Linked DNA regions of Homo sapiens: regions 2 and 3 are each linked to region 1. The links come from fine-mapping of genetic effects on gene expression. A gene starts in region 1. Each other region holds a variant in brackets. All regions are shown on one strand. Distances are between the middles of the regions. Region 1 holds the start of PAIP2B (poly(A) binding protein interacting protein 2B). Region 2 overlaps PAIP2B (poly(A) binding protein interacting protein 2B). Region 3 has its middle 28 kb from the start of NAGK.

What was found. PIP is the estimated chance that this variant, and not a neighbour inherited with it, causes the effect.
Region 2: its variant is fine-mapped to the expression of PAIP2B in spinal cord (GTEx, PIP 0.97).
Region 3: its variant is fine-mapped to the expression of PAIP2B in amygdala (GTEx, PIP 0.98).

Annotation. Positions count from the first base shown.
Region 1 is chr2:71,222,562-71,230,748 of GRCh38, reverse strand. It overlaps PAIP2B (poly(A) binding protein interacting protein 2B), which reads left to right and starts at 3,646. Exons shown (of 4, transcript NM_020459.1): 1 at 3,646-3,821. RefSeq lists enhancers at 3,361-3,500, 3,716-4,216.
Region 2 is chr2:71,182,835-71,191,021 of GRCh38, reverse strand. It overlaps PAIP2B (poly(A) binding protein interacting protein 2B), which reads left to right. Exons shown (of 4, transcript NM_020459.1): 3 at 1,001-1,177; 4 at 2,487-8,187. The coding sequence ends at 2,543. Among named protein-coding and RNA genes, the nearest start is that of PAIP2B, 40 kb to the left of the region's middle. RefSeq lists enhancers at 6,058-6,557, 6,558-7,059. The variant C/G (reference allele first, on the strand shown) is at 4,381.
Region 3 is chr2:71,036,360-71,044,546 of GRCh38, reverse strand. It overlaps the pseudogene OR7E46P. Among named protein-coding and RNA genes, the nearest start is that of NAGK, 28 kb to the left of the region's middle. The variant G/A (reference allele first, on the strand shown) is at 3,356.

The DNA of each region.
Region 1 (8,187 bases):
CCAGCTCGGGTGAAAGAACAAGACCCTGTCTTGAAAAATAAATGAAATAAAATTGCATTCTGAGTTATGGGAAAAATAAAATAAAATGCAAACCAAAACCTGGATAAGGTACCATTTCACACTCATTAGGATGGCTATTATTTAAAAAAAAAAAAAAAAAAAACAGAAAAGAAACTACTGTTGGCAAGGATGTGTAGAAATTGGAAACTTCGTACATTGTTGGCGGGAATGCAAAATGGTGCAGCCACTGTGGAAAACAGTACGGTGGTTCCTCAAAAAATTAAACATAGAGTTACTATATGGCCTAACAATTCTACTTCAGAATATATACCCAAAATAATTGAAAGCAGGCCCTTGAACAGATATTTGCATACCAACATTATTCACAATAGGCAAAAGATAGAAACAACCCAAATGTCCATCAATGGATGAATTGATAAACAAAATAGGACATATACCTATAATGATGCTACTCAGCCTTAAAAAGAAAAGAAATTCTGATACTTAAACGTGGGAGACATAAAGCCAAACACAGAAGGACAAATATTACATAATTTCACTTACACGTGATACCTAGAGCAGTCAAATTCACAGATACAGAAAACAGAATGGTGATTTCCAGGGGCTGGGGTAAGGGGAGAATGGGGAGTTAGTGTTTAATGGGTACAGAATTTTTGTTAGGAATGATGAAAATGTTCTGCAGGTGGATTGTGGTGATGATTGCACAAAAATGTGAATGTACTTACTGTAACTGAACTGTACACTTAAAATAGTTAAGATGGTAAATTTTATATATATTTTACCACAATTAAATTTTAAAAAATGAAATGATGTAATCTTCAAGGTTGAAGATTTATTGCCCTAATAGCAATAGGATGTGGGGAAGGGTGATGGGCTTCTCTTGCCTCCCTCCCTCTCATTGACATCATCTCCTACAACTTTATGACTGGTTTTTGTCTCATATCTGTCCCTGCCCACCACCACCAGATACCCACATTGCTACCTCATTCCTTCATTGTCTTTTGGCTTCCATAGTTTCTGATAAGAAATTTGCTGTAATTCTTATCTATTTTTTCCCCTCTGTATGTTTCCCAGCCCCTTCCTGCTCTTCACTTCTTCACATCTCTGTTCAATGGTCTTTCCTCAAACAGCTCTTAAACTAACCATTCTACTTAAAATGGCCATATTTTTTTTCTGCCTGCTTTTAAGACTTTTCTCTTTATCACTGGTAATAGCCAGCCATGAATTTATAATAGATGGCACCAGTGGTAGGAAGTGAGACGAGAGAAGTTCATCAACCCTTCCTTACATCCCATTGCTATCCTGGTAATAAAGGTTCATCCTCAAGGAGTATTTCTGACTGCTCAAGGACACCACGTGGACCAGAAGAGCCTGTTTTTCAAACCTATGAGATTGTGTAAACTTTCTCTCATCATACACCGGAAGGCCAATTCAGGGAAAGAAGCAGTGGAGGGTATGGGGATGCTATCCTAGAGAGAGATTTTTTTTTTTCTAAAAGACACATGTTTCTTGCAGGCGTCATTTAAATTATGTAATCAAATAAAGCTTTAAACCAGAGTTGGCAGCCCTAAATGGATGTACACCTAATACACAACTTCAAAATACATGGAGCAATGTGAATAGTGATCCTGGAGTTGTGCACTGTAGTGGCTCTGCTTATTAGCCCCTTCCCACTCTTCACTTCTTCACATTATTCACATCTCTGTTCAGTGCTGTTTCCTCAAACAGCTCTTAAACTAACCATCCTACTTAAAATAGCCATTTCCCCAACCATCCCATGACTCTGCTTTATTTTCCTTTGTAGCATTTATTCACAACATACCATTTTATTATTTATTGGTTACTTTTCTGTTGTCAGTCTCCTTCACTACAGTATAAACACCATGGGTGCATCTTCACTGTCTTATTCATATCATATACCCAGTTCCATGATCAGAGCCTAGAACATTCATAGTAGATGCTAAATAATACTTGTTGAATGAATTTATTTATTTACTTATATCATTTAATATGAAGTATGTATTAGTCCATTCTCACATTGCTATAAAGAACTACCTGAGACTGAGTAATTTATAAAGAAAAGAGGTTTAATTGACTCACCGTTCCTCAGGCTGTACAGGAGGCATGGCTGGTGAGGCCTCAGGAAACTTACAATCAGGGCAAAGGGGAAGCAAGCACGTTTTCACATGGTAGCAAGAGGGAGAGAGAGCTAAGGGGGAAGGACACACACTTTTTTTACCATCAGACCTTGTGAGAACTCACTCACTATCACGAGAACAGCAAGGGGGAAATCTGCCCCCATGATCCAATCGCCTCCCACCAAGTCCCTCCCCCAACATTGGGAATTATAATTCAAAATGAGATTTGGGTGGGGACACAGAGCCAAACCATATCAAAGTATACAGCTAATATTTATAATTGTTATTTGAGTTTATCTTTTTCATTTTTATATTTTTTCCATTCATTCTGCAATTCCCTAACTTTGTGTCATGTATACAGTCAGCTTGAGAGGTGGGGGGGAGAGAAAAATGTATAAAGTAAGAGCTCCACAAAGAAATCCCTACTTCCTGTGGAATACAATTCGAAGTCCTTTGCAAGCAGATTGGACATTCTAAATCCAAGGGAGGCAATAAAGTTTTATTTTAATTTGTATTTATTGATGTATTTTTTTTTGAGTCGCAACCTCACTCTATTGCCCAGATTGGAGTGCAGTGGTGCGATCTTGGCTCACTGCAACCTCTGCCTCCCGGGTTCAAGTGATTCTCCTGCCTCAGCCTCCCGAGTAGCTGGGACTACAGGAGCCCGCCACCACGCCCAGCTAATTTTTGCATTTTTAGTAGAGACGGGGTTTCACCATACTGGCGAGGCTGGTCTAGAACTCCTGACCTTGTGATCCGCCCGTCTCGGCCTCCCAGAGTGGTGGGATTACAGGCGTGAGCCACCGCGCCCGGCCAAGTTTTATTTTTTTAAAGCACTCAAGAAGTTAGGTTTGTTTCTAGAAACGTGGAAGCATCCGTCTGCTTCCTTCCAGCGTCCCTTTGCTTCCTTCCAGCCTCCCAAGGAGCCCAATTCCTTAATTTTCCCTACAGAGAATAGCACCAGGTCCAAAGCAGCCTGAATCAAAGCTCCTCCTTTGGTAATTGACAGCTGAGGGAAATCCTACTGAGGCCCACCCCCACCCTCCTCCTTGCTAGGCTGACAGGCAAAACTCGGTGGCAGTGGCTTCCAGCTCAGCCAATAGACGAAGCGGGAGCAAGAGCCTGTGTAAACAAACCCAGAGTGCGGCGCCTTGGTCTCCTCCCCCACGAGTGGGCCGGGCGCATCCTTGGCCCAATGCCTATCCCAGGCTAGCGTAGCGTCCTTTCAGCCAATCAGAGCCGGCATCTCCCTCAAGGAGGTGTTCCACCACAGGAAAAAAAAAATGAAGGAAGAGAAAAGACAGACATTAAAACCAATCAGAAGCTGAAACTTCTGAGGGAGTGGGCGGGCACTGCTTCACATTTAGACCAATAAAAACCACATATGCCATTCTAGGTGACCGAACGGCATCTTCTTTGGCCCAATAGACGAATGGGGCGGTGCCCGGCAACCAATGGCTTGGGTTCGGGGGCGGGGCGAGGAGGCAGTGTGCAGTAAGAGATAACCTGGCAAGTGGTAGTGGCGCTTCTCGGGTGCTGTGCTTCACGTTTTGGTACTAAAGGCCGAGACTGTTGTGGCGACGGCGACCTCTACGGCAACGGCTTAAGCTCTCGGAGGAGTGGCAGAGTACGATCTGAAGGAGGGGCTTCTGGTTAGCCCAGGTGGGCTCGGGTGCCCGGGCTGCTGGGGAAAGGACTCGAGGGAAACGCCGTTCTCCCGGCTCTGGGGGCGCCCTGCGCCTCCCTTTCTGCCGCCGTCGGGGCTGTGAAGGGCGGCACGCGCCTGCCCGAGCTCCTGTAGGGAGGGAAAGCGCGCGGGGTCCCACGTCGCGGCCATCGGCGAAAAGGGGCGTCCGCTGGGGTCAGCCCCTGCCCCTCGGGAGCAATAGGGGGTTTTCGTCCCTTTCCCCCCCGCACAGGTGCTCTGTTTCCCCCCGACTCCCACCCAAGTTCCTGACTCCCCTCAGCGTCCTCCTAACACTCGAACCGAATTCTTGGCCTGAGTCCCATTTCTACCCAGGTGCAACAATGCTAGGCAAATTGACCCGCGCGGCATCCCCCGCCCCTCTCCCCGGGCTGGAGCGGGAGGGATTGCGCGTCGTGCCCTTCCCCTATTCGCGGCCCCTGCGCGTCCTCTGCCTTTTTATACTTGCTCCATCTCCCCCTTGACTCCAGCCCTCATTCTTCATGCCTCATTTGCCTGGGAGACGTTCGCCACTTCTCTTGTGCCTTGCGGTCCGTGAGTGAGCCCATCACCCCCTACCAACCCCTAAATTCCATTCTCATCTCTCCAGAAAACTAACATTTTCCACTTGCCTCTTCCAGGCAGCTGGAAGGTGAACTGAGAGAGGCAGAATACGCAGAACAGGGAGTTTGGCAAGGTTGGGAACTTTAATGTTTTGTTCCTGGTAGACTGTTTTTGCCTTCAAATGGCATTTGACCATTATACCCGCTCTAGAATCTTTGTCCTAATGCAGTTCTTTTGGTGGTAATTGCTGAAAATGCAGTTGAAAAGGGCTAACTAGAAGCAAGGGATTTAAATTTTGTTACTATTATTTTCAGTAAATTGAATTGGATTATACTTTAAACAGCTTAACTGGGGTTTCTGGGAGTTTGTAGTGTAAGGGCCTGGCTACCCTACTTTGTCATAAAATATAGAACATACTTAGTTGTACAGCACAGTGTGATTCGATCACACCCAACCTATGAAGGGATAATAACAGCATTGAATCTGTCCAAAAACAACATTCCCTGTTCCCTTTTCACCTTCATAGTATATTCGTTTGGTTTCTAGTAATGTCGGTTCTAGCCATATGTTTTTTGATAACAGTACAAACTATGCTGTGCCTAAGTAAAATTATGCCAACAATTTTATGGGGAAAAGCTAATGCACTGCTCTTAGCTTTGATTAAGATTTTAGACGTTTGAAAATATAAATTCAGATATTGGACAGTGAGGGTTTTATTTTGAAGGTTGGAGGAGATTGAAGTGTTGGGGTAAGACTGATAGGCTCCTCTGGCTACTTGTATATCGGGGTGGGGAGAATATACAGGTTTACAAAATCTTGTAAATTCTCACAGTGCTTAGTTTCCTGACTTTTCAAAAATTGGAATTGTTTTTCCTAGCTTTCAGTGGAGAAATGTAAGCTATGAGTTTAACATCATGTTCACTGTGTTTTGGCCAGGATTTTGCAAGCTTTTGTGGAAAAAATTATATTGCTTTCTTTATCCTGTTTGTAATGTATGTATCAGTATGCTTCCTTGTATTTTACTGTGGTAAAATTGTATCTTGTATATAAAGAAAAAAGTCTATTATAGTGAATTAAAAGAAATCTTTACTCTGAGGTGGCAGCCTTGTCTAATGGACCATATGTTTAAGCCTTGTTAATAAATCACACTAGAGCCTAGCACAGTGGTGTGTGCCTGTAATCCCAGCCACTTAGGAGGCTGAGGCAGGAGGATTGCTTGAACCTAGGAGTTTAAGACAAGCCTGGGCAACATAGTGAGACCCCATCTCAGTCAATCAACCAATCAATCAATTACACTAAAAAGAGTAAGATCTTAAAACTGTTCCAACAAATGTCTGGGTGTCTAAAACAAGGAAAAGAGTTTATGACAGAGTTACAGCAGTCATCAGAGAAAAATCCTGGACAAATTGCAAATCTGTAACAGTTGTGAATTGCTGTGACTGCAGCTGAAAACCAAAGTTATTTTTGTGCAGTCTTTTTTGGGAGTATTTGTGTTTAATAATAACTTGTTTGCAAATTTAGAGGACTCTAGCTATGATTTCTTCTTAGAGACCTTGAGGAGCTCACAGTTTAATGGAAGAGAGAACTAGAAACCAATAATTAAATGCAGAGAGTGAGGTTCTGCAGTAGAAGGTATATACAGGGTGCAGAGAAGCACGATGGCACTGTGTTCTGATCTCATCTCCTACTGCTCTAGACTTCCTGAAGTGCCATTTCCTGAACCTACCTGTTTTTTTCCACCATCTGGACCTCTCTCTGTATGCACCATTCTCTCTCCTTGCAAGCCTTTTCCACACCTTATGTGCTTGGTGAAATTCTGTTTCTTCAAAATCTTGAAGCCTGCCTCTGCCTCATCCAAATGTTTTGCCTACTTCTCTGTTATTTCTTTATAAATAATTATAGTCAATTCTCATTATTTGCAGTAGTTATATTCTATAAAGTTGCCAAGAACACTGAATTATCAAATATTCAACCCTTGTTCCCAGGGAAAATATATACATATATACATATCTCACACAGATTACAAAATTAATTCCTAAAAACAACTCATCCTGGTAGATTGAATTTTCCTTACTTACAAAAAATAAAGGAAGTACAGAAGTGTTAAGCGATTTGCCTGAGGCCTCTCTACTAACAGGTGCCAGAGTTAAGATTCAGACTCGTCCAGATGGCCCCAGAGCCAGAGCTTCTTGCACTACGCTGCACTGCCCTCTGCTGTCTCTGTCCTCTGGTCATCTTTGTATGAGGGCTGAGACAAGGCTGAGGGTCACCTTGGGACTTGGGCAAGGAGTGACATATTTTTCACTACTATGTGTATATCCATAAGTCACCTTGAAAGCTCCACAAGTATTTGGGGATTACAAAGACATTTTAGCAAGTAAGCAAATTTGCAAATATGGGATCCACAAATAATGAAGATGAACTGTATTTGTAAGTGACTGCTAGGGTCTGTTTCATGGTAACCCCTTTCCCCAACAATGTGGACTATTTCTTTAGCTTATTTGATAGTTTGTACATTTATTCATAAATTTATTCAGTTATCATATATTCATTCATTCAGTTTGTTCATTTATCATATATTAAGCACTTACCATAAGTCAGACTCGGCTGAGCGTGGTGGTTCATGCCTGTAATCCCAGCACTTTGGGAGGCTGAGGCAGGTGGATCACGAGGTCAGGAGTTCAATACCAACCTGTCCAGGATGGTGGAACCCTGTCTCTACTAAAAATACAAAAAAATTAGCCAGGCATGGTGGCAGGAGCCTGTAGTCCCAGCTATTCAGGAGGCTGAGGCAGAGAATTTATTGAACCCAAGAGGTGGAGGTTGCAGTGAGCCGAATCGTGCCACTGCACTCCAGCCTGGGTGACAGAGTGAGACTCCATTTCAAAAAAAAAAAAAAAGTCTGTGTTTTTGTTTGTTTGTTTGTTTTTGAGATGGAGTTTCGCTCTTGTCACCCAGGCTGGAGTGCAATGGCACGATTTCAGCTCACTGCAACCTCTGCATCCTGGGTCAAGCAATCCTCCTGCCTCAGACTCCAAGTAGCTGGGATTATAGGCTCACACCACCACACCCAACGAATTTTTGTATTTTTAGTAGAAACAGGGTTTCACCATGTTGGCCAGGCTGGTCTCGATATTCTGACCTCAGGGAATCCACCCATCTTGGCCTCCCCGAGTGCTGGGATTACAGGCGTGAGCCTCTGCATCCAGCCTCAAACTCTGCTTTAATCTGTGGTGAACAAGCTGGAGATTAAGGTCCTGCCCTGTGGATTTTATATTTGCCTAAGAAAGACAGATAAGAGCTAAGTCAGGAGCTCTGGGGAAAGGCCCAGGTTGGAATTATAGATTCACTTGACCAAGGTAAACCTGGTGTGCCTGCTCCTACTTCACATCCCCAGACATACTTCCAGAACATTTCCTTTTGTATTTTTGTGTACAAACTTCCTTTTGAGCCTCTCTCCATTGTCACATGTCAACCTCTACTTGTCTTTTGTTGATTTTGAGGCCACTTGCCCATGTAAGTGGCAGGATATTATAGAAGAATCATGCTGACCTGGGTCTTTGAATTCTGGTTCTGCTACCTACCAACTGAGTTCCTTTGGTCAAGCTCTTGGACTTCTGAGCCTGTTTCCTAATTCCAAAAGTGGTATATGATGTGTTAGTCCCTGGTGGGTTGCAAGAAAGAGGCACACACATATCAGCTTTGGTGATGAGGGCTGAATGTAAACTTGGATGGAAAGTCATCTAAGCAGCCATATTGTCTCTTGGCCCTAGTACTTTC
Region 2 (8,187 bases), 40 kb after region 1:
AAATATCCTAGATATATATTGCTTTAGTTTAGGGCAATGTTTAAGAAATGCAGAATTGTTTGAATATTCATATATTTCATCTTTTGAAAGAATACTACATTGATTATGTAATTTTCTATTGGTATGCCAAAAAGTGTTCTTTATGTCTTCCTAATGTTCTGAAAGTATTTTTCTCCCTTGAGGGTTTCCTTACCCAAAAAATGGCCAGAAGCTGAGAGCATTGGCTTTGATTTTATCTCCACTAGCCAGGTCATGAACTAGTTATATACTTGCAGTATCTTTTTCATATTTCTTATAAAATGGGAAATTTAAGAAGGGTTACTTTGTAACAAGACTGAGAAAAGAATTTTAGGCTCTAAAATGATTTTCCATGATATCTGTATCACCTATTAGAGATCGTAGAACATCTGCGGAGACCTTGAATTTCTGTTACTGTGAATAACTATTTTCTTAGTCTTATTAGTGATAGAATTTGGTTGAGAAAAAATAAAAATTATGCTATCTCTAGCTAGTCATTAGGCGCATTGAATCCTTAGATCCCTTGGACCTCATGTAAGATCATAAAATCTTTTTTTTAAATATATTTTTATTTTTTAAAGAATCGGGGTCTCATTCTGTCGCCCAGACTGAAGTGCAGTGGCGCAGTCTTGGCTCAATGAAGCCTTGACCTCCTGCATTCAAGTTGTCCTCCAGCCTCAGTCTCCCAAGTAGCTGAGACTACAGGCACACACCACTATGGCCTGGCTAATTTTAAAATTTTTTTTGTAGAGGCAGGGTCATGCTATGTTGCTCAGGCTGGTCTCAAACCTCCTGGCCTCAAGCAATCCTCCTGCCTCAGTCTCCCAAACTGCTGGGATTACAGTTGTGAGCCACCACACCCAGCTCAAGATCATTCTTAATTGCAGAGTAATACCTTCTGAAGGAAAGAGGTGGAGGAAAAACTGGAAGGGGTAAGTCTTGCTGTGACAGTAAGTCTGAGCTGCTCCCCTTTGCTTGCTAGGTGGAGGAGGAACTGCAGGAGCAAGACTTCTTGGACCGCTGCTTCCAAGAGATGCTGGATGAAGAAGACCAAGACTGGTTTATTCCCTCACGAGACCTGCCTCAGGCCATGGGACAGTTGCAACAGCAGTTAAATGGACTGTCAGTCAGTGAAGGTCATGATTCTGAAGATATTTTGGTAAGAGCCATATGTAGTTCCCCAGGTTATGTAGTGAAAAGAATATAGGATTTGGAATGACAGACTTTCTTTCCAGCCCTACAACCCTCAACAAGTCTGGAGCCCTGTGAGCTGTTGTTTCTTTGCTCGTTTTATGGGCATTATTAATAAGGGGTGCATTAAAGATGCATTGCTCCTCATAAAGCACTATAAAACATTACTGTTGCCAGCATCACGGGCTTTTTACTTGCCAAGATTGGACGCCACCAACCTTTACTTTCTAATGGGCTCTTCAAAGTAGAATTGGGATTAAGGATAACAATTTGAACACTGAAGAAGTTTCTTCTCAAATATCATTTGTTGCTATTCTTCTCTTTTACTGTCCCTCAAATCTGTATTTAATATACTTCTAAATGATTCTGTTATAAAAATTAGCTGTTCATTTTGGAAGAAATGTACTCCTGAGAGGTCATTTTCTCCACTTAGAATTAGAAAACCAGATAAATTAATTTCCTGCCTTTCATATTTATGTAACATCAGAAGTCTGTGAGCAGGCTGGGCACGGTGGCTCACGCCTGTAATCCCAGCACTTTGGGAGGCTGAGGCGGGTGGATCACCTGAGGTCTGGAGTTCAAGACCAGCCTGGCCAACATGGAAACCCCATATCTACTAAAAAAATACAAAAATTAGCCAGGCATGGTGGTGCGCGCCTGTAGTCCCAGCTTGGAAGGCTAAAGCAGGAGAATTGCTTGAACCTGGGAGGCAGAGGGAGGCGGAGTTTGCAGTGAGCCAAGATTGCACCACTGCACTCCAGCCTGGGCAACAGAGCAAGACTGTCTCAAAAAAAAAAAAAAAAAAAAAGTCTGTGAGCAATATAGTTTTCATACAACTCATATTCTGAACAATCTTGCCCTGTGGTTTGCTAAGGTTTTGGATATTCACAAGAGAGTAGAGAACCAAAGAGAGTACAGAAAGATGAAGAAAAATAGAGATTGTGGTATCCAGCCTGGTCTGATGGAGTACCCTGGTTTTCACCAAGTTAAGGTACTCAGTGAATTGAAAAATTATTCTTGGAGTTGAACTTACAGGCCTCTGATGAGATTTTGGAAAGCATCAGGAAGGAAACAAGAGTCCAAAGAAGGAAGGAGAAGATGAGCTTGCTCAGGGCTATGTCAGGTGCAGTTGAGATAACCTAGCAATAACAGCCTGAGTTACAAGGAATTTTCTTTCTCTCCCTAAAGCTAAGGGGAAGGTACTGATAATGATGGACTGGGTAAGTTTTAAAATGCAGCTTGCCTTAGGATTTACTATCTCTTGGTTCTTATTTCAGAGCAAAAGTAACCTGAACCCAGATGCCAAGGAGTTTATTCCAGGAGAGAAGTACTGAGCCGAGAAAGCTTTGAGGAAGACTTGTCTGTCCCCACATCTGGGGATAGTAATGCACAAAATGGTGGAGCTGAAGAGGGGGATGGGGCGGGCGAGGGGTGCACAGCGGGAAGGGGAGTGGTGGTCTCACAATACTGTGACTCTGAGTAACTAATATGCTCAGTCTTATTCTAAGCCTCTGAGTATTTCTATTTTGTTCTGCTGACTTTTGTTTGGGGAGTTTCCTGTTTTGTTTTTTTAAATAGCTCTTTCGAGTTAAGGAAATTGCATTTTCCCCCCTTCATCAGAAGTGTTCCGCGGTGTGTATTTAAACAAAATAAGCTGACTAAGAAAAACTGGATATTTAGGAAATGCCCCTCTCACCCTGCTGTATACTTATCAGGGACAGTGAGCACCTGGAGAGCTTTTTGTGGAATCTATTGAGTTGGATGGGAAAAGGGACAAGCAGAAAGAGCAGGTGGTGCAAACTGGAATTTGAGGCTCAGCTGCCCCACCCCCGGGGTCTCCTGCAATGAACTCGGATAACCAATGTGCTGTCAAGCCCTTGCCTGTTTGTCCTGAACCCCATTCAAGAAAACACAGACTTAAAGTACTTAGTTTACAGTAACTTTTGATGATTGTTGAAAGTTGTAAATCAGAAGGTAGGGCTGTGATGGTGGTTGTCACTTGAGTCATTTAGTTACTGTTGTCCTGTTCATAAGCCTGTGTTCACCACCACCATCAGACTCACCATTTATAAGTAGAAGAGCACTAGGGTTGATCTGCCACCTCATCTTTCATGAAGTCTATTCCCCAGCCTCCTTTTTAAGAAAAGATACTGCTACCAAAGGCATAGGGGAGGCCTGCTGTGCTGGCAATTAGCATGAGCCTGCAGAAGTCATCCTTGAATCTGTTGTGTCTTAATTTTATTTGGACAGTTTTTTTTTCCAGCCTCATCAACACTTGGTCTTCCTGGTGTCTTAATTCCCTCAGACAAGTTTATGCACTTTTTTAAGGAAATATTTTTCAGGACACTAGTAAGAAGCTCAGTTCACAGTTTGGATATTTCTTCCCACATTACAGAATTATGGAAAGGAACTCAAAATCAGCCTAGGAAAGTGAGTCCTGCTTGACCCATGTGACTGTGTACCTGACCTTCTGGGATCTTTTCAGCTATTAAAACATTTTACTGTTCCCACATACCCAGCTTTGCAAGTTTTGTAGATTGACCTCTTAGGGTGTGTTTCTTTGTCTTTCCTGCCTTTAACTTGCTGGGGTCTTTTGTTGCTACCCCTAAGGAACTAAACTGGGTGCCAGGAGCTACCTTCGTGTATAGAGATGTAGATGGCAGTGTGGGGTACAGGAGAGCCATCCAGGCCATTCTCCCAGGGATGAGGAATTGGAGAGCCCTGAAGATAATAGTGGCTTCTTTCTGATTGCTACTGTGCTGTGTGATAGGCCTAATAGGGAAAAGATATGTAACTTGAAACAAAGTTGGTATAAATTCAGTATGTGGCTGTGGGACAGAGGTTGGAAGGAAAGGACTAGGGTATGGAAAGCTGAAGAAATTCTCCTTATGAGCTCTCGTTGACTTTTTGAACAGTGATAAGCTAATGCCAGATTTAAAATACACATTTTTTCCTATTTGAGTCTTTAGGATTATATCATTTGAAAAAATTGCCTTCCTTGTTAGGTCACATGTCATAGGAGAGTAGCTTAGAGAACTTGCATTACCAGACAGACACATTAATTCCCAAAGCCTCTATGTTGAGAGAATGAAACTGTTAACTCTTTTTCAGAGAGGACTATGAATAAAGAAACTTCTTTATTCAAGCTTCAGCTTTCAGCTGGGTTGTTTC[C/G]TCTAAAAGGGAAAGGGCATTGCAAGTGCATAGAGGAAATCTCTCCCTTCTGGGACTGCTTTTCCTCCTTCATCCTCGTGAGCCTGTCCAAGCTCAGAATTCCGAAGGCTGTTAGAAATGCGTTGGGATTGCAGAGAGAAAGGAGCTTGTCTTTCCTTCTGCTGTGCTGGTCTGTTTTGGATGTCAGTCTTCAGGACTATGAAAACTTCCTGCCAGTTTAGCATGGACACTGAGGGCTGGCATTTCTAGTCTTCTTCAGACACTGAACATACTGACTCCAGGTATAGGAAGCAGCTAGCAAATTGATTCTTTTTTAAATGCATAGGACTCTGCTTCCGGCGGTTCCTCTTGTAGTCCAACTCTTTTTGCCATCTATTTATGTTGGGAGGTAGGGGCACAATTGTCACTCACAACACAGGCTAGTTAGAGTTTGCTACCTTCTTAGCAGAAAATGCATGTGTGTCTTGTTGGACCTTCACTGGGGAAAGGCTGGGAGCCTCTGGCTGTCAGTGACTTTTCTCACAGAAGAAGAACCAGCAAGCCAGACTGGACACCTTTACCCTTTAATGGTAAGACTTGTATTTATAAGGGGTAATTTTGATGTTGAATTTAAGCCACTACTTTGTTTAAACTTTTTTAAATTGGCAACTAGAAGTTTGAGAATTTGTATAGAAATGGAACATGTATTTCTAACAGTTGCCAATCTGGCTGGTCCCAATGTTAGTTTATTAGTGATTGATCTGTAATTATTGGGATTATTTATTCAACTCTAAAATTCCAAGATGAAAATAATTTATCTCTTTCTTTTCAAGGGAAAAAACCCAAATGAATGCATTTTCAGTTTCTCCAGGCCTTTGAACTGCAGCAGAAAATTCAAGGATACAGCCTAGGCCTGGGCAAATGCAGCCCTGGGTCTTTGGGCCAGTTTCTGACAATAATAGTTGAGTTTTGGGAATCACATAAGGGTGAAACCAGAAACGATCCTAAGGAAAGGCTTGACCTTTGTTAACACCTTTAGTTTCCAAAGTCACAGCAGCTGGGGTCCCTCTTTTTTTTTTTTTTTTCTTTTTTTTTGAGACATAGTCTCACTCTGTCACCCAGGCTGGAGTGCAGTGGTATGACCATAGCTCACTGCAGCATCAAATTCCTAGGCTCAAGCAATCCTCCCATCTTAGCCTCCCGAGTAGCTGGGACAACAGGTACGCACCACCACGGCCAGCTAATTATTTTTATTATTTTTATTTTTTGTAGAGACTGGATCTTGCTCTATTTCCCAAGCTACTCTTGAATTGTTGTGCTCAAGTGATTCTCCCATCTCAGCCTCCCAAAGTGCTGGGATTATAGGCTGGGTGTGGTGAGCCACCCCAGCCTGGGGTCTCTTTAATTAAGGTTATAATGCTAACCATGGCTTAAAATACTAAGCAACATTTTCCAAATTGTTTATTACTATTGCTTTGATTTTGGAGAAGCTGGGAAGTAAGGAGGTGAGGTGAATACTCTGATAATTAACACGTGTTAGAGAGGAAAGTTGTGTGAAGAGGCTGCCAAAGTAAACAGCACGAATGAATCTTCTTGTACTAGGGCTGCTGCAAACCCCAGGTAGACAAATGACAGCCCAGGCTCCTGAACCATCAGGAACCCAGGAATCTACCCAACTGTGAGGAGGGGGCAGGCCTTCGTCAATAAGGGTCCCACCATCACGGGCTAATAATCTTTCTCAGTTTAGGTGATATTGAGGTATTGAAACTGTTAGAAATCTGACAGATTTGACCAAGATTTGGAGACGTCCACATAATTGGGAAGGACTGAGTGTCCCTAGCCACTCTCCTCTGGGATAACGCGGACGTCATTAGTTTGCGAAGTGGGTGGGGAGAACAGGAGGATTGACTCTAATTTGGTGTGTAGTGGGGGCCTTGATGTCCTTCTGCCTCTGTCCACATTTCCCCATGTGACTCATTGCACCCTGCATTGCTCACAGGGATCATTAGTTCTCCCGGTAGACAGAGCACCTCTGCAGCCTCTGCTCTGCTGCCTTGTGAATTTCCTACACAGACTTGGTTAGTTACAATTTGGAAACAGTTTTTTTGGGTTTTTTTCCTTTGTTTTAATCTTCTCACAATGAAGCTGCTATTGGTGACAGGGACAGGGGAGCAGGAAGCCAACCCAGGGAAACATGCGAGTTTCCTGCACACCACTTAGTCACCTGCCCTCACTGGCCAACCCCCTACTGCTGTTCCCAGTCAGTCTGGTTTTTAGAGGCATCGTGGCAATAGAATAGCTGGATACACTAATCTCTACAAGGTGTCAGGCAGGAGATTCACCTTCCCCAGTCCCAGGGGACAGGAGAGAAATCTGTAAAGGGACAGATGCACCATCTTTATTTCAAAAGAAAAAGCTCCCTCAGATTGTGTTACTAGGAGTCTCTTTTGTGACATTTACTGAGCTTTCTCCCCAATCTTACCTTCCTATTGGCTACTTTTTAAATAAAAATAAACATTTTAGGCTAATATGACAAAAATGAGATAAAATCTTAAAAACATTGTACTAGTGTACAGTTACTAAAATGTGCTTACTACAAAACAGTAAAATATTTCACTCTGTAAATCATCACTAAGTAGTTATTCTGTCCTGTTGATTATGAGCCTCCAAAAATGTTTAATGCTTGAAGGATGGTTTGGGAGGCAGGGAATCCTTTTCTTAAAACAACTTTAATGAGGCATATGTTACATATCATAAAACACCCATTTCAAGTGTACATTTCAGTGATTTTAGTAACTTCCCTCAGTGGTGTAGCTGTAACTATTACTCAGTTTTAGAACATTTTTATCCCTCCCAATAAGATCCTTCATGCTCTTTTACAGTTAATCCTGTTCTTACCCCCGGCAACCACTAATCTACTTTCTCTATAAATTTGCCCTTTCTGGACAGTTCAAATCAATGGAATCATACAATATGTGGTCCCTTGGGTCTGGCTTTTTTACTTAGCTAATGTTTTTGAGGTTTGTCCATGACAGATAACGTCTTGGTAGTTTGTTCCTTTTATTGCTGAGTAGAATTCTGTTGATGGATGTACCACATTTTGTCAGCAGAGAGCCTTTTAAACTTGGATTCCAACTTCCTGTTGTCTAAACGGAACCCTCCGAACGTAGGACTTATAGGGGAAGCTGCTGTGCATGTCAAAAAAACTACTAATCAGAATGAGCTTTGTCATCCAGAGCCAGAACTGCTGCAGAAATTTTTATAATTTTGCAACTTCTTTTTTTACAAGGAACTTTTGTGCTACTACACATCAGGACTTTTGAAGCATCCAATAAATCCATTTAATAAGTATGAGCATGTGTCTGAGTGGACAAGAAAGTGAAACCATCCATGCTACATTGGATAATTTTTCCTCCCCCAGACTGGACAGGGAATCTCAGCTTTCAAAACAGAGTAACCTGGCTCCACTTACAAAGCTGCACAGGCATTAAAGATCGTGCTGCCTTTGTTAGGCAGATTTGGAGGGGAGGCCCAACAGCAAAGATGGAGAGGAAAAAGGGAGTGGAGCTTGTGGAACAGGAAGCCCCCCAGGGTCTGTGCAGGGCTGCTCAGCTCTTGAGGATGTTGTGGATGGTGAAGTGGTGATGGTGTCCCGGAGCAGCCCAGCACCTCCACTGGGCCCAGAAGGTCTTGACTTCGGACACTTACCCCTGTTTCACAAGTGTTTATAAAGCTGTTTTTGCTTTTTTTCCCCTAATCATTACTTGGTAGTTATTAATCCTTCTTTGGGGGAGGGACAGGGCTTTAAAACTGAAGAAAATAATTTTC
Region 3 (8,187 bases), 190 kb after region 1:
CACTCCCAATATCGCAGGGGGTGTACATCCATTCTGTGATATTGTTCTTCCTATTCAAAGGCGGAGAGGTTGATATTATTCCCAATATCACAGAAAGTGTACAAACCTGTGTGATATTGTTCGTACTATCCAGAAGAAGGGAAGATGATATTACCTCCCATATCGCAGGAGGTGGACACCCACTCTGTGATATTTTTCCTAATATGCAGGGCGGGCGAGGATAATATTCTTCTTAATAGCGCAGGGTGTGTACAGCCCCCCCAGTGATATTGTCCTTAAGGTTCCAAGGCGGAGAGAATGATATGACTCCCAATACCGCAGAAACTGGACACCACACCAGTGACATGTTTTCCATCACCCAGGAGAGAAAAGGATGACACTACTTTCAATATCGCATGGGGTGGACACGCCCCCAGTGATATTGTTCCTAATTTCAACGTGGGAGAGGATGATAATACACCCAATGGCACTGGGGGTAGAGACACTCCTGTGATATTGTTGTTCATAACAAGGGGGAAGAGGATGCTATTAATGCCAATAGTGCAGATGATGTACACCCATGTGTGATATGGTTGGTAATTTCCAGAGGCGGAGAAGATATTCCTCACAATAACGTAAACAGGCTGTGTGACCACCGTGGATCGTAATAACCAGGGGGAAAGGGGGGGATGATATTACTCCCCGCATCACGGGGGGCGCCCGCCCCCTGCCATGTGGATCGTCATATCGGGGGGGAGAGGGGGGTGATATGACTCCCCGCAGCGCGGGCGGCGCCCGCCCCCCTGGGATGTGGATCGTCATATCCGGGGGGGAGAGGGGGGTGATATGACTCCCCGCATCGCAGGGGCCTCACCCCCTTGCGATGGGGATCCCAAGAGCCAGGGGGGGATAGGGGCTGGCTCTTACTCCCCGTACGGCGGGGGGGCCTCACCCCCCTGCGATGGGGCTCCTAAGAGCCAGGGGCAGAGAGGGGCTGGCTCTTACTCCCCGTATCGCAGGAGGTGTGTACAACCCCTGAGATATTGGGAGTAATATCATCCTCTCCCCCTGAATATAAGAAACAATATCACAGGAGGATGTACACCCCCTGCGATATTGGAGGTAACATCATTTTCTCCCCCTCGGGATATTCCGAACAATATCACAGTGGGTGTGTACAGCCCCTGCGACATTGCCGCTAGTATCTTCCTCTCCCTCCCAGGATATAAGGAAGAATGTCACAAGGGGGTATACACCGCCTGCGATATTGGCTGTAATATCTTCCTCTTCCCCACTGCCCTTTAGGAGCAATGTCACAGAAGGGTTGTACACCCCCTGCTATATTGGGAGTGATATCATCCTCTCCGTCCCTGGATATTAGGAACAATCTCCCTAGGGAGTGTACACCTCCTGCAATATTCAGACTAATTCATCCTCTCGCCGCCTGGATATTAGGATCAATATCACAAGGGTGGTGTGCACCCCCGGCGAAATTGGAAGAAATATCATCCTCTCCACCTTTGGATGTTAGGGACAGTATCACGGGGGAGGTCTCCGCCCCCTGCGATATTGGGAGTCATATCATCCGCTCCCACCCAGGATATTAGGAACAAGATGACCGAAGGGATGTACACCCACTGCGACACTGCGATATTTTCAATAATGTCATCTTCTACCCTCTGGCTATTAGGAGTAACATCATAGAGGGGTGTCCACTTTCTGCGATATTGGGAGTAATATCCTCTCCCCCACGGATATCGGGAACAGTTATCTCAATTATTAATATTAATAAATATAATAACAATTAATAGTAATCATCGATATTAATAATTACAGTAGAGACAATAAAACATCGGGATTAAAAATATTAAGGGTTACTATTAATAATTAATAGCAATATCACTATTAATAATACAATAATGATATCAGTAATTAAAGTTACTTCAATCAATCATAAGTGATGTTGGTAATAAAGTAATAATTAATATTAAGATTAATAACTAATAATAAAAGTGACATTAATATTAATAATTAACGTTAATCATGCATAATCCTATCTTGAAAATAATCATTAATGATTAATAACGTTATACTATTAATTAATACTACCATGGCTAATTATTAACAAGACTGATGTTTAATAATTCATAATATTATTACTGCTAATGCCGCAGGGGGTGTACAACTACCTGTGATATTGTTCCTAATATCCAGGGATGGAGAGCATGATATTAGTTTTCATATCACAGTAGGTGTACACTCACCCTGTGACACCGATCCTAATACCCAGCGGGTAGAGTATTACATGACTGCCAACATAGCAATGATTGTACAGCCACCCGGTGATATTGTTCCTAATATTCACGGAAGAAGCGTATGATATTACTCCCAATATCGCAGGGAGTGTACACCTCTTCTGTGATATTGTTCCTAGTAACCCGAGGGGGAGAGGATGACAATAATTGCAGCATCGCAGGGTGTGTTCACCCAGCCTGTGAAATTGTTATTAATATCCTGAAAGGGAGAGGATATATTACTCCCCATAATAGATAGATATGGCTCCCCATAATAGAGCAGGAGGTGTACACCCACCCTGTGATATTCTTCCTAATATTCAGAGGCCCAGAGGTTGATATTACTCCCAATATCGCAGGAAGTGTACACCTCCATGTGAGATGGTCCTTAATAATATTCCAAGGCGGAGGGGGTGATATGACGACATATATGGCAGAAAGTGGACACCCCTCAGGGATATTGTTCCCATGATCCTGGAGGCAAGACGATGATATTACCTTCAAAACGACAGAAGGTGGACACGCCCCCACTGATATTGTTTCTAATTGCAACGTGGGAGACGAGGATATGACACGCGACATCGCAGGGAGTAGAAACACCCCTGTGATACTGTTCTTAATATTCAGGGGGGAAGAGGATGATATTACTCCCAAAACAGACGGGTGAACACCCTCCATACACCGAGGGTGTACACCCGTCTGTGAAACAGTTCATAGTCTCCAGAGGGGGAGATGATATTACTCACAATATGGTAAACAGGCTGTGAGTCCACCGCTGATCCTAAAAACCAGGGGGAGAAGAGGGGGTGGCTCTTACTCCCCGCATCGTGGTGGGTGCCTCACCCGCCTTGCGATGGGGGTCCTAAGAGCCGGGGGGGAAGAGGGGCTGGCTCTTTCTTACTCCCCGCATCGCGGGTGGTGCCTCACCCCCCTGCAATGGGGGTCCTAAGAGCCAGGGTGGGGAAGAGGGGCTGGCTCTTACTTCCTGATTTTTCCTAGGATCCTTTCTATACTGCCACCCTCGGTTCGCACCCTGGGACATTATCTTCCATATTCTAGCAAGATGCGGCTGCTAAAGTCGC[G/A]GGGGGTATACAGCCTTCAATATTATTCGTAATTTTGTAGGGGAATTGTAAACCTGATGTCACAGGACTCTGTATACTGTGATGTTATTCCCAATATCCTACCTTTACCTTAGTAATAATGTCACATTGTGTGTACACCTTGTGGTGTTATTCTTATTCTCCTAAGGAGAGGTTGCTTTTATTGTCACATGGGGTATGTTCCTTTTGATAGTATTCATAATGTCCTAGAGGGATGTCACTCCTTATGTCACAGGGTTTGTACGCCTTGTCAAATTAGTCGTATTAACGTCATAAGATGTCACTCCTTATATCACAGAGGGTGTACACTCTGTGATATTGTCGTCATATTCTAGGGAAATGTTACTTTTAATGTCACAGAGGTTGCACACCTTGTGAAATTATTCGCTATAATTTTGTGGGATGTTACCCCTAATGTCACACGGCGTGTGCACACAGTGATGTTACGTCCGATATGCTATGGAAATGTTACTCGTAATTCACAGGTCCTGTCCACCCTTTACTATTCTTCGTAATCTTCTAGGAAAACGTTACTGCTAATGTCACAGGGCCTGTAAACCCTGTCATAAAATTCCTAAAATCCTAGCGGGAGTTCACTACTAATTTCACAATGCGTGTACACCCTTTGATATTATTCGTATTGTCCTGAAGAGATGTTACTCCTGATGTCCCAATGCAGGTACATTCTCCGATCTTATTGGTTATATCCTCGGGGGATGTTACTTGTAATGTCACAAGTGGTCTACTCCCTGTGTTCTATTTCATCATATCCTAGGGCAATGTTACTTTTAATGACACAGTGGGTGTACACATTGTGATATTATTCGTGATATTCTAGAAAGATGCTACTCCTAATGTCACAGGGCTGTACACCCTGTGATAGTATTCATAATTTCCCAGGGGTCTATACTCCTATTGGCACAGACGATAACACCCTGTGACATTATTCATAATATTCTAGCGAGATGATACTCCTCATGTCACAGGGGGTGTACACTCCGTGTTATTATTCTTACTATTCTAGGGGGATGTTACTCCTAATGTCACAGGGATGTACACCCTGTGATATTATTCATAGTGTACCAGAGGGATATTAGCACTAATGTCACGATGCGTGTACACCTTGTGATATTATTTGTCATATCCTAATGTCACAGGGGGTGTGTTCCGTGTGATACTCTTCCTAACATCCTAGACGGATATTGCTCCTAACGTCACAGGGGGTGTACACCTTGTCACATCATTGATAATATCCTAAAACTATGTTATTCCTCAGGTCACAGGGGGTGTTCACCCTGTGATATTTTTCGTCATAGTTTTGTGGGATGTTACTCCTAAAGTCACACGGGGTGTACCCAGAGTCACACAGTGATATGAGTTGTAATATTCTATAGACATGTTACTCGTAAATCACAGGGGCTGTACCTCCTGTGATATTATTCGTAATATTCTAGGGGAATGTTGCTACTATTGTCACGGGGGTGTACACCCTGTGATATGACTCATCATATCCCAGCGGGATGTTACTACTAATGTCACAATGCCTGTACACCCTGTGATATTATTTGTAATATCCTAAAGAGATGTTACTACTAAGGTCACAATGCATGTACACCCTCTGATATTATTCATTATATCCTCGGGGGATGTTACTCCTAATGTCACGTGGGGTGTACTCCCTGTCATATTATTCATAATATCCAAGGGGGATGTTATTTTTAATGTCACCGGGGGTGACGTTACACATTAAAAATGCGTATTCAACGCCTGTGATACTATTCCTAATATCCTAGGGGCATGCTCTTCCGAATGTCGCATGGGGTGTACACTATGTGTGTACACCTGCTGTGATATTATTCGTAATATCCTAGGGGAATGTTACACCTGATGACACAGGCGGTGTACACCATGTGTGTACCCCTCCTGTGTTATTATTCATAATATCCTAGGGGGATGTTTCTTTTAATGTCACAAAGAGTGTACAAAACGTCCCAGAAGGTGTACACGTTGTGACGTTATCTGTAATACCCTAGAAGGATGTTACTCCAATATGTCACAGGGGTGTACACGCTTTGATGTTATTTATAATCTCATAGAGAGATATTACTTCAAATATCACAGTGGATGTACACACATAGTGTATACCCTGTGATAGTATTCGTAATATCCTAGGGACATACAACTCCTGATATCACAGTGCGTGTACCCCGTGTGTGTACACCCTTGATATTAGTTGTAATATCCAGGGTAAATATTACTCCTCATATCACACAGTGTGCACACCCTGTGATATTTTTCCTCCTACTTTAGGGAGATATTGCTTCTAATATCACGGTGGGTGTACCCCATGTGTCTATACTCTGTGACAGAATATTCTATATCCTAGGGAGGTATTACTCCTAATATCACAGTGGGTGTTCACCCTGTGATATCATTCTTATTTGACCTTGCTGCCTTTTTAACCTACACTACAAAAGGAATGGAACAGATAAGAAGATATTGAGATTAGACCGTGCTGCCGTGCGGCCACCGCAGGACACTTTTAATATCCCTGTTTCTCAGGCTGTAGACAAAGGGGTTCAGCATGGGGGTGACCACCATGTACATCACTGAGGCCACTGCAACCTTCCTCGGGGAAGATGACACATCTCAACTGAGGTACCCTCCAACGCCTGTTCCATAAAATCAGCAAACAACTGACAGGTGAGACCCACAGGAGGAGAAGGCCTAATACTTCCCACCTGATGATGAAACCCTCAGAATGGAGGAAACAATTTTATAGTAAGAGAAAAGGGAACCCGAGATGGGAAGAAAACCAAATATGGCAGCAGGGAAATACATGATTATGTTATTGGTGAAGGTGTCACAACATGCAAGATGGGGGAGTTGAGAAGGGTCACAGAAGAAATTAGGAATTTCCACATCCTTGAAGCAGGTCATTTGTAAGGCAATCAAGTTGTGCAGCTGGGCATCTAAAAGACAGAAAAAAAAAAAAGACAACAAAACTAGAAAGCCACAGAAACACGGGTTCATGATGGCTGAATGATATAGAGGGTGACAGATGGCTACAAAGCGGTCAGAGGCCATCACACTCAGGAGCGTGTCTCTCTTCCATGCCTCCAAAAATGGCAAAGGGAGACATCTGAGTCAGGCAGCCTGCATAGGAGATGACTCTGCTGTGAGATTGGATGTCCACAATCATCTTGGCTACCGTGGTGGAGGTGAAACCGATGTCAGGCAAGGACAGGTTGGAGAGGAAGAAGTACATGGGGGTGTGGAGGTGGGAGTCAGGGCTGACGGCCAGGATGATGAGCAGGTTCCCCAGCACCGTTACCAGGCACATGGACAGGAACAACCCAGCAAGGACCAGCTGCCATTCTGGATCCTCTGAGGTTCTCGGAGGAGGAATATAGAGACATCTGTTAGATTCTGTGGGTCTGTAGAGATTGGACACCTTTTGCCTAGAAAAGAGGATTGAGAAATCGGAAACAAGTAAACCAACACCCAGAATCATGTCTGCATTTTGGATAGAAACAATTCGCAAGTAATGTTTTCAGATTTCAGAGCAAGCCACATTCAGCAATACTTTGCAGTTCTGACAAACTCAATTGTCTTCTAATGCTTTCATCATTGATTTCTGTGTTATTCACTTCTTGCTGTACACACCTGCCTCAGAGACACTAGATTCAAGAATGTTCCAAGAACCAGATCATCATATATAACAAATTCATAATTGCTAGAAAAGACAGCCTATCTTTACCGAAGGAAACTATGTAATAAAACCATTCTCTTCACTGTAAGAAAAAGGTTATCCTAGTGAAAGGAAATTAAGAACTCAAATATTTTATTTTATTCGAAGAGATTGATAGAAATTCCCTTGATTTAGAACATCTGTAAACACTGTATAACTGCTGAGACCATGCCATCTGGAAATGAAATTAAAGTTGATAGTTCATAAGCAGAAAATAGTTCCACAGGCCAGTTAGGTCCTAGTGATGTCATCAATATGTTTTCTGACTTTTCTCCTTCAAGAGAGTAATTTCTTACTCAAATCGGTGGGTCTTGTTTTAAAATTCATGTAAGCTGTAACTCCTGTCCTTAGCTTCGGTGGACTTAGAGTTTTCATCAGAACGTTTGGCCGGACGCGGTGGCTCACGCCTGTGATCCCAGCATTTTGGGAGGCCAAGAAGGGTGGATCACGAGGTCAGGAGATCAAGACCATCCCGGCCAACATGGTGAAACTCCGCCTCTACTGAAAATACAAAAACTTCACCCAGTATGGCGGCGCGCGCCTGTAGTCCCAGCTACTCGGGAGGCTGAGGCAGGAGAATGGCTTGAACCTGGGAGGCAGAGGCTACAGTGAGCCGAGATCACACCACCGCACTCCAGCCTGGGCAACAAGAGCAAAACTCCTTCTCAAAAAACAAAAAACCAAAAACACACGCTCTGTCACACTGACGTCACACCGATGACAGCCAATTTTTGTGAACCAAGGAAGTGTCAATTCAACAATTCACATAGATGTTTACTTTGCTATCTCCTTGATGCCAAGCAAGATATAGGCTCTGGGGAATCAGAAACAAAAGAGACTCACTTGTTCCTCTCACAATACTCAGTACTTACTGAGATAAGGACAAAATAAAATGTCCTGTCCGGAATGCAGGGAAACCAGAACTTCAGGTCAGGGGACATTTCCGTTGAACCGTATGGAGTTTAAGCTTAAAATACTAACGAATGTATCTAAAATTCACTTTGCCTTTACTTTACGCATCCATCACATAGAGATCACGCAGCAGGCACCCACGATTGGTTTA